2 linked regions of the Homo sapiens genome follow. The protein of the gene in region 1 purifies or fractionates together with the protein of each later gene. This does not show direct contact. Each region holds a gene or a part of one and is shown on either strand. Other genes may lie near its edges.

Region 1 (3,900 bases):
GGGGCAGAAAGAATGGGGCGGCACCTGCCACAGGCTGTGTGTGGGACTTTGCTGGCAGCAGCAGGCGCGGTGCCACGGCTTTGGGGACCAGCTGGTCACCAGGAGTCCTGCCATCCCCTGGTGCCTGAGAGAAGCTGGGCCACCCGCCTGGGAGCAGCTCCTGGCAGCACCCCTGTGTCTGGCTGGGGTCAGAACTGGTGACTTTCCAGATTCAAGCCAGCCTCCCTAGGAGGTCAAAAGCACCAGGCATGTAGAGGGGCTTCTGACCCAGCTGGTGGCAGCCTGCTCCCAGGGCACCTGCTCCTGGGTCTAACTTTTGTGGCATGGGGCCGCCCAGCAAGGGGCAGGGTGTGTGGGGTGGGCGCTGCCAGCCACGTGGGACTGTGGTATCCTCATGGAGCTCAGTCACGGTGAGTTCGCAAACAGCACCCCCCGGCCTGTGTCTCCAGAGGCCAGGTCAGCACCAGAGGCCAAGATGGGGAATAAACTGGGCTTTAATGGGGAGGGAGGAGAGGATGAGTTCCCTCCAGGACGGGCTTGTTCTCGGCTGGTGGAGCAGAGGGGAACCAGGGGCCTGGCTGGGCACTGGCGGACTGTGTGCACGAAGGCCGACCAGCCTGGCACAGGGACCAGCTGGAGAGTCACTCGTGACTTTAGAACACGGCATTCAACCGCATGTCCTTGGAGCACCGTATTCTGGTCAACCGGCTGGTCAACGAGCTCCAGGCTTTCTGTAGTTTGTGGTCAACGAGCTCCAGGCTCTCTGCAGTTTCTGGTCAATGAGCTCCAGGCTTTCTGTAGTTTGTAGTATTGTCAGCAGAAAGTTACACTCATTATTTCGAAAGCATGATATACTGATGTATACTATCGGATAAAGCAAATGATTATGTAAGCTTTTTAGGAATCAAAAGTTTCAGGATTAAAGGAGAGAGATGCAAATGTAAAATTAGTGGAATTAAGTAAAAATTTTGCTATGTTAAATTTGACCTTTTCCCAACAGAAGGCATTTCCTTAGCTACCAGCAAGGCCTAGACACAAACGTCTGGACTGTAGTCTCTGACTGCCGTTCCCTTGGGTCCAGGCCTCTGGCGGGAGGGCGGGACCCCTTCCTCTGACTGTTCCCGGGGTCAGGCCATGGGGATGCACAAGGCCACACCGTGAGGCAGGAGTTCGGGTGGGGCAGGGCCGTGGACTGGGGCACCCACCAGTCCTGGAAAACAGGGCTGGGACGCTGCTCTGTGGCCTCAGACAAGCTTGGTGGGCGACATGCTCAAGTGAGCAGGGGCCCCAGGCCACGTCCAACTGTCCGCGAGGCATGTGAGCCTGAGATGGGGCTGGTCTCCTGTCAGAGGCACGTGAGCCTGAGATGGGGCTGGCCTCCTGCCCGGCACACTCGTTTCTGGCCACTCTTTCAGACGTGCATTCCGGGGGCAGAATGTTCTGGGTAAGTTCAGGCCAGACACTGCTGGGCGATGACTGTTACTTCCCCCAGGCTGTGGGGAGGAGGCAGCCTATTCTTCTGAAAATTGTCCAGAAACTTCTGGATTCTGCATGTGGCCCCTGTGCATCTGAATTGGCCCCGCTAAGTAAATGCAACGTGGGTGCACCCAACATTCACAACACACCTTCCTGAGGTTTCTGCATCGGCCACGCCTGTGGGCTCCGGAGCTGGGTCTGGGGAAAAGCTGGTGAGCCACAGACATGAAATGGGGGCCATGGGGCAGGTGGGGGTCTGGGTGGAGACGGTGATGGGAGAGAGGGTTCACCGGCTGAGGGGCTGGTGTGGAGATGACCTGGAAAGTCCCTGCGCTGGGGGGTGAGGCAGGGTCACGGCAGAGCAGCTCCGGGGCCATCCGTCCACGCACTTTCTGTGACACATGCTGATGGACACACAGTAGTGTGCAGGGTGGCAGGTGTCCCCACAGTGGGAGCTGCTCTCCTCCAAGAGCAGCACCAGGAAATGCACGGAACCCATGGGACAGGGCTGGTTCTGGGAGGCTTGTGAACCCTCAGCTCCTCCCAGGAGGGCCCCCTGGGTGGCTGCCCAGACCTCCTATGTGGGCCGGGAGACACTGGCTCTGGGTGAGGCACAGGCACGTGCAGACGGCGTGGGACAGGGGCTTGTTTCCTCCAGTGGAGTCTTTGTTTTTTGTGGGAAACCTCTGGGACCTGCCCTGGAGAGCCTGGCAACTGCAGGGCACTGTGGGGCGGGAGGTGCCTCAGCACGTGGGGCCAGGGGCTGGCTGCACCGCGCTGCACAGATGAGGTCGGCGGTGACCAGGCAGAGGTGACACCAGGGACGGTCTCCTTGAGCTGCAACAACTGGCCCGAGGCTGGGGACCCCACATGGTGATTTCATCCCAAACAGTTCTTGATTCTACGTGACCTGATTTGGGGGGTTCAGGTTTAAGGGAGGCCAGGTCTTGGACGGGCCCCCGTGGTTCTCGGTGTGAAGGGGACGTCTGCTGCTCCCCACCAGACCCGCAGTCCCAGTCTGCCGGGTCATGAGGGGTGGAAGTGCCTGATGAGCGCCTTCTTGTCAATCTTGCCCATCTGGTTCCGCGGGATCTCCTCCACCAGCACCAGCTCCGAGGGCACCGCGTACGGGGCCAGGACATTTCTGCAGAGACAAGCACAGCCTGAGGCGCACTGCCCTGACAGTGCCCAGCAGGAGGAACTCAGGCGCCCAGCAGTACGGACAGGTGCCCCTGGGACCCTGCAGCCTTGCCAGGCGCCTCGGCCATCCTGAGGCCAGGCAGGTGCACCGGGCCACCGCAGCTGTCTCTGCCCTAGCAGCCCAGGGGTGGTGACTGCAGGAGGTGCCCGGCATGGTGTTATCACTGGTACCACAGAAGCCATGGTGCGTGCAGGCCTTGGGCGAGGGCACACCTGAGGATAGGCCTGCACAGAGTGGCCTGCAGGGCAGAGGGGCCCCCACACCGGGCCAGGCCTTCCAAGTCCCCGCACTGGAGCTGGAAGGCCCCATTTCACTCTGTGGCCCGTTCCCCTTCCAGAGGAGGCGTGCGGAAGAGGCTGGGGAGTGGGTGGGCAGGTGGGGCAGGGGCAGTCTGCCCTGTATGGGGTATTTGAGATGGGAGTAAATGCCGCACAGTCCTGCAGACACAAGCCTATGTGGCAAGAGGCCTCACAGAGCCCTGCACGGCAGGGACGGCCCCTAAGGTTTGAAACCTCCACTCAGGGTCCCCCTTCCTCATGGGCGAGAACTCGGTGGGTGGTGCCAGGGCGGTGGGCGGTGCTGACACGGGTGGGTGGGGCCAGGGCACTGCCAATGCAGGCGGGCGGGGCCGAGGGCAGTGGGCAGGGACGAGGCGCTGGGATCTGAAACTGAGACTGCAGTGGTGCTCGGTGCTCCTCCATTCACCATTAAAGAAGGGAGGAAAGAAATGAAATTAACCCCCCAAAGGGAGGATGGTTGTGCCGCCCACCAGTGATGCCCTGAAGGCAGCGGCCGTGGCCCAGGCGCAGGAGGGGCTGGTCCAGGGCGTCCAGGCTGCACTGAGCCATGACAGAAACGAACCTTCATGGCGATTGTTCTGGTTACTGTTCCGCGGAAAAGTCCAGAAACCAAGTGTCGTGGTTTCTTGACGCTTTTTGTGGAGAAAGTGTCGCCTGCCGTCCAGACGCGGCCAGAGACCCAGCACAGTCCCCCTGCCCACCTGCCCCTGCCCGTAGGCCTCTCGCGACAGAGGTGGGAGTCGGCCCAGCCCAGTCTCTCGCTCTCCAGGGGCAACTGGCTTCGACCTCGGTGTCGCTGTCAACCTCGACCTCCACATTTCCAAATCGCATTTTTCTTTTTTTCTCTTTTCTTTCTAGGACAGGATCTCACTGTTGCCTGGGCCAGAGTGCAGTGGTGCAGTCATGGCTCACTGAAGCCTCGAC
Region 2 (3,900 bases), on another chromosome or scaffold:
CTCCCCCAGCCCTGGGGCAGAGCTAAGCCGGATGAAATAATCCGAGAATCCGGCTGGGAGGGGCAGTGACAGGCTCCACAGGGGAATCCGGGGTCCACCCTGGTCCCAGCAGAGCTCTGAGCACACCCGGACACCCGGGCTGGAATGCAGCCTGGCTCCGACTCCACACCCCTCGGTCTCCTAAACCTGATATCCCTCCGAGTATCCTGTAGAGTCATTCCACCTAGGGGAGGAAGGGGGCTGCTGTTAACCAGAGCTGGGCCGGGCTCTCCTTCTCCTGGGTTCACCATTGGTCCCAGGGCCAAAAAAGGGCCCAGAGTGAGTCTCTCAGGGGGTCACGGATGACTGGGATCAACTCCTGCTCTGGAGTCCTCAGAAAGAGCCACACGCACACCCAGACACCCCCCTTTCCTGTTTTACACACATGCACACTCTCACTGTAAGTCTCACAACACCGGCACAGGTGCTCGGCCACACCCCAGCACGCACAGTGACACATGCTACTCCAGGTGCTCCCTTCATCCTGGAGGCAGAGGAGCCTTCACAGCTGAGCCCGAGTGATGGGCGCTCTTCCAGGCACTCATCCTTGTGGTGGGCTGTGGTAGCAGGAGCTCAAGGGCCATTCACACCCTCCCCTTCCCAGCCTCACTCAGCTCTGGATTCAAACCGGGGCTGATCAGGCAGCACTGGGATTGGGAAGAGACCCGAGTTGCAGTCACCCTTTCCCGTAAAGGGGCAGAAGGGAGGAAGCTGGAACCCAGGGGTTTGGAGAAAGTTCATGGAGAGGAGACCGGGAACTAACAGTCCAGACTTCAGCATCTCCGGAGCTTTCAGGAGTGGGCGCAGCGGGAACAAGGCCAAGGAGAAACCTCGTAACCTGGGCAGGGAGGGCGAGTGGAGTCCCCTGAGGAGCTGGGGCTGAGGGCTGAGGGCTGAGGGCTGCCCTCCACATCTAACTCCAGGTGGTGTCCGGGCCAGCAGGCCCCCCAGCAATCGTCTCCCGCCCATAGAGCCCTCCCCTCTCTGCAGCCCCCTCCCAGACCCTCCCCCGGACCCCGCCCTCAGAATCTCCGCCCAGCCCCGTCCCAGCCTTGCCCCCTGGAGCTCCCGACCTGGCCCGGCCTTCTCCCAGGGGACCTGGCTTAAAGTCCTCTCCCCAGTTTCTACTTCGAAGGACCCGTTCTCGCAAGCACAGGGGCCCAGCCCTCTCTCCCGCCTGCCCCCACGGCTCCCGCGGCTGGTTTCGAATCGGGTCCTCGGGACTCCAGGCGAGGGGCTGCGGGTCTGGGTGGATCGGGGTGGAATCCGGGTGGAGAATGGGGGCGGGGCCGGAGTTTCCCAGACCGACCCCCCGGGCCGTCCTCCCGCGGGAGCGCGGCGCTGCACACCCGGCTGGCACCGGCGACTTAGAGACGGCAGCGCACGACTCGCTGGCTCCCCCCCGACACGGCCCCTCCTCGTTCCCCCAACTCCTCCCCGCCACCCCCCCACCCGTTCGCGCTCCACCTTTCCCCGGCTCCTCCCTCCGCGGCCGCGAGCACCCTCCCTTGGCACCCTTCCCCGCAGCCCGAGTGCCTGTCCTCCCCAGCCTCCTCGCCCTCCTCCACCCCCTCTCCCATCACCCTCCCCTCCCCTCCCCTCCCCTCCCCCGTCCTGAGCTCCCACTTCCACACCTACTCCAGGCTCGGAGCCTTAGGACCATCACCTGCCCACCTAAGCCCACGGTGCTCCCTCCTGGGACCCCACTCCTGAAACCCCCTGCCCCTGCCTCCCCCAGCCCGGTGCGCCGGGGCTCTCCGCCCGCTCCCTCGGTCCCTCCTCCCTTGCAGGCGCCGTTTCCCGGCTTCGACTCCCCGCGCGTCTATCCCTCTCCTCCCCGCGAAGTTTCGGGGCTGTCAGTCTGTCAGTCTTTCAGGCCGTCAGCACCCGAGCTGCAGGCGGCGAGCGCCATTGTGAGCAGAGCCGGCGGGGCAGGAGGCCCGGGCGCCTGGGTCCCCGCGGCGCGGGCGGAGCGGCCGGCCAGCCAGGTAAGGGCCGGGGAGGCTCCTCTGCAGGCGGCCCCGCCCGCGTCTCCCTCAGCGCCGCGGTTGGGTCACGGCCGGCTCCGCGCAGGTGACAGCCCCGGGGGTAGGGGCGCGGACGGCGGGCGTGGGGGAGGGGCGCGGGTCCGGGGAGGTCGGGGGCTGGGGGGAAGGGAGGGCAAGGCCGGCGCGGGCAGGGTGAGGGCTGTGGGGGTAGAGGAGACCGGGGGGGCTGGAGGGAAGGGCGGGGGCTGGGAGGGGGTCGGGCGGGAGGCAGGTGGGAAGGGGGACGACGGGCCCCGAGGGGAGGAGAGAGGGAGTGTGGGAGGGGGCCGAGGGGGAAGGGGAGGAAGAAGCGGGCGCTGGGGACCGGGCCACTCGGTAGGGGCGGGAGAGGAGGGCGCTGACAGGTGAGCCCCGGAGCTGGGGAGGGGGCCGGGACCTGGAATGAAGTCGGCGATCGGAGCTGCTTGGGAGGGCGGCGGGGCAGGGAGGTGGAGCTGAGGGTCCCGTCGGGAGGAAAACTTGGGAGGGGTGAGAAGTCCGAGGGGAGCAGAAATAGGGAGGGGGCGCCGCGGCGGAGAAGAGAGGCGCGGAGGGGTGTTCGGAGGGGAGACGGAGTGGGGAGGGCAGGGCCCGCGGGAAGGTCCCGAGAGAGCGGGTCAGCCCTAGACCCCCAGGCTTGGGGGCCGGAGGACCCGGGAGCTGGGAAGCAGCCTGGGAGGGGGGAGGGGAAGAGCGGTTCTGGGGACTGGGGACGGGGAGGGAAGCGAAGCTGGAGCCTGCTGGGGAGACAGAGGGGGAAGGGAGGCGGGGGCCTCGGAGGGGAAGGAGAGCTGCAGAAGGGAGGGGGGAGGGGGAGGGCGGTGGGGAGACGTGGGGGAGGGCTGGAAAGGGGGAGGGGAAGGGAACCGAGGTGAGGCGAGGAAAGGAGAAGGAAGGGAAACCGGGGTGGGGGAGGAGAGGAGGGAGGGGAGAGGAGAACTGGGTTGGGGAAAAGAGCTGAGAGGAGGAGGGCGGGGGTTGGCGAGGAAGGAAAAGAGGAGGGGGAAAGGAAGGGAGAGGGTGTGCAGCCGGGGAGGGAGATGGAGCGGGGGAGAACCGGGAGGGTAGGGAAAGGCAGCCTGGAGTCTGAGAGGGGGAGGGGAGCGCTGCCGCCGAGGCGGCCCGGAGCGTAGGGTCAGGGGAGGCGGTGGCAGCGGAGGGCCGACCCGGACGGGGCCTCGAGGGGTTGGCCCTGCCGGGCTCGGGCGGGCGGAGCCTGAGGGGCGGGGCCGGGGGCGGAGCCGAGGCGCCGGCCCGATTCGCAGGGGAGAGAGGGCGGAAGGCAGAGGGAGCGGGAGGGGCGGGGCAGAGGGAAGGCTGCCGGGGAGATGGGGGAGGGGAGTCTGCTGGGGGAGGGGCGGGGGAGCCGCGGAAGGCGGAGCAGGGAAGGGGCAGCAGGGGCGGTGTCCGGGCCTTGGGCAGCCCGGCACGGGTGAGAGGTGGTTTTGTGGTAGGGGTTTAGGAAGAGGCGATCATTTTCTAGCTACAAGAGGATCCTCTCGAGGACCTCCCCAAGCAGTACCCCTAAAGTGACACTCACTCCCGCCCCTGGGCTGGCTCCTATTTCACCAGCTCGGGCAGTGACAGCTGGAGGACCTGGGAGATGAAGTTTCCCACTCCCCACCCTGGGCTCCCACCCTCAAGCCTCTCCCCAGAGAATCGAATCTTGCCTGCACTTTCCCAGGCAAGGACGCTGGGGCGTGGAGTTGCGGTGCTGATGGGCCGGGGTTGGCGGTGACAGACCTGCCAGGTGAGGGGGTGGCGCGGCTGGTTTCCAGAGCTGACAGAAATCGTTTCAAGGCCTTCTTGGGCCACCTTCAAAGATCTCTTGGCT

The links.
Region 2: the proteins of ACSF3 (region 1) and ZNF467 purify together in Homo sapiens (co-immunoprecipitation; one large-scale study listed by IntAct). This does not show direct contact.

The regions. Positions count from the first base shown.
Region 1 is NC_000016.10:89,152,810-89,156,709, reverse strand, and holds the end of ACSF3 (malonate--CoA ligase ACSF3, mitochondrial isoform 1 precursor), read right to left. Parts: intron 2,621-3,900; coding exon 2,503-2,620; 3' UTR 477-2,502; downstream 1-476. UniProt on the Homo sapiens protein: Catalyzes the initial reaction in intramitochondrial fatty acid synthesis, by activating malonate and methylmalonate, but not acetate, into their respective CoA thioester. May have some preference toward very-long-chain substrates.
Region 2 is NC_000007.14:149,771,235-149,775,134, reverse strand, and holds the start of ZNF467 (zinc finger protein 467), read left to right. Parts: upstream 1-1,546; 5' UTR 1,547-2,027; intron 2,028-2,047; exon of another isoform or gene 2,048-2,112; intron 2,113-2,373; exon of another isoform or gene 2,374-2,431; intron 2,432-3,638; exon of another isoform or gene 3,639-3,669; coding exon of another isoform or gene 3,670-3,750; exon of another isoform or gene 3,751-3,816; intron 3,817-3,900. UniProt on the Homo sapiens protein: Transcription factor that promotes adipocyte differentiation and suppresses osteoblast differentiation in the bone marrow. Enhances the osteoclast-supporting ability of stromal cells.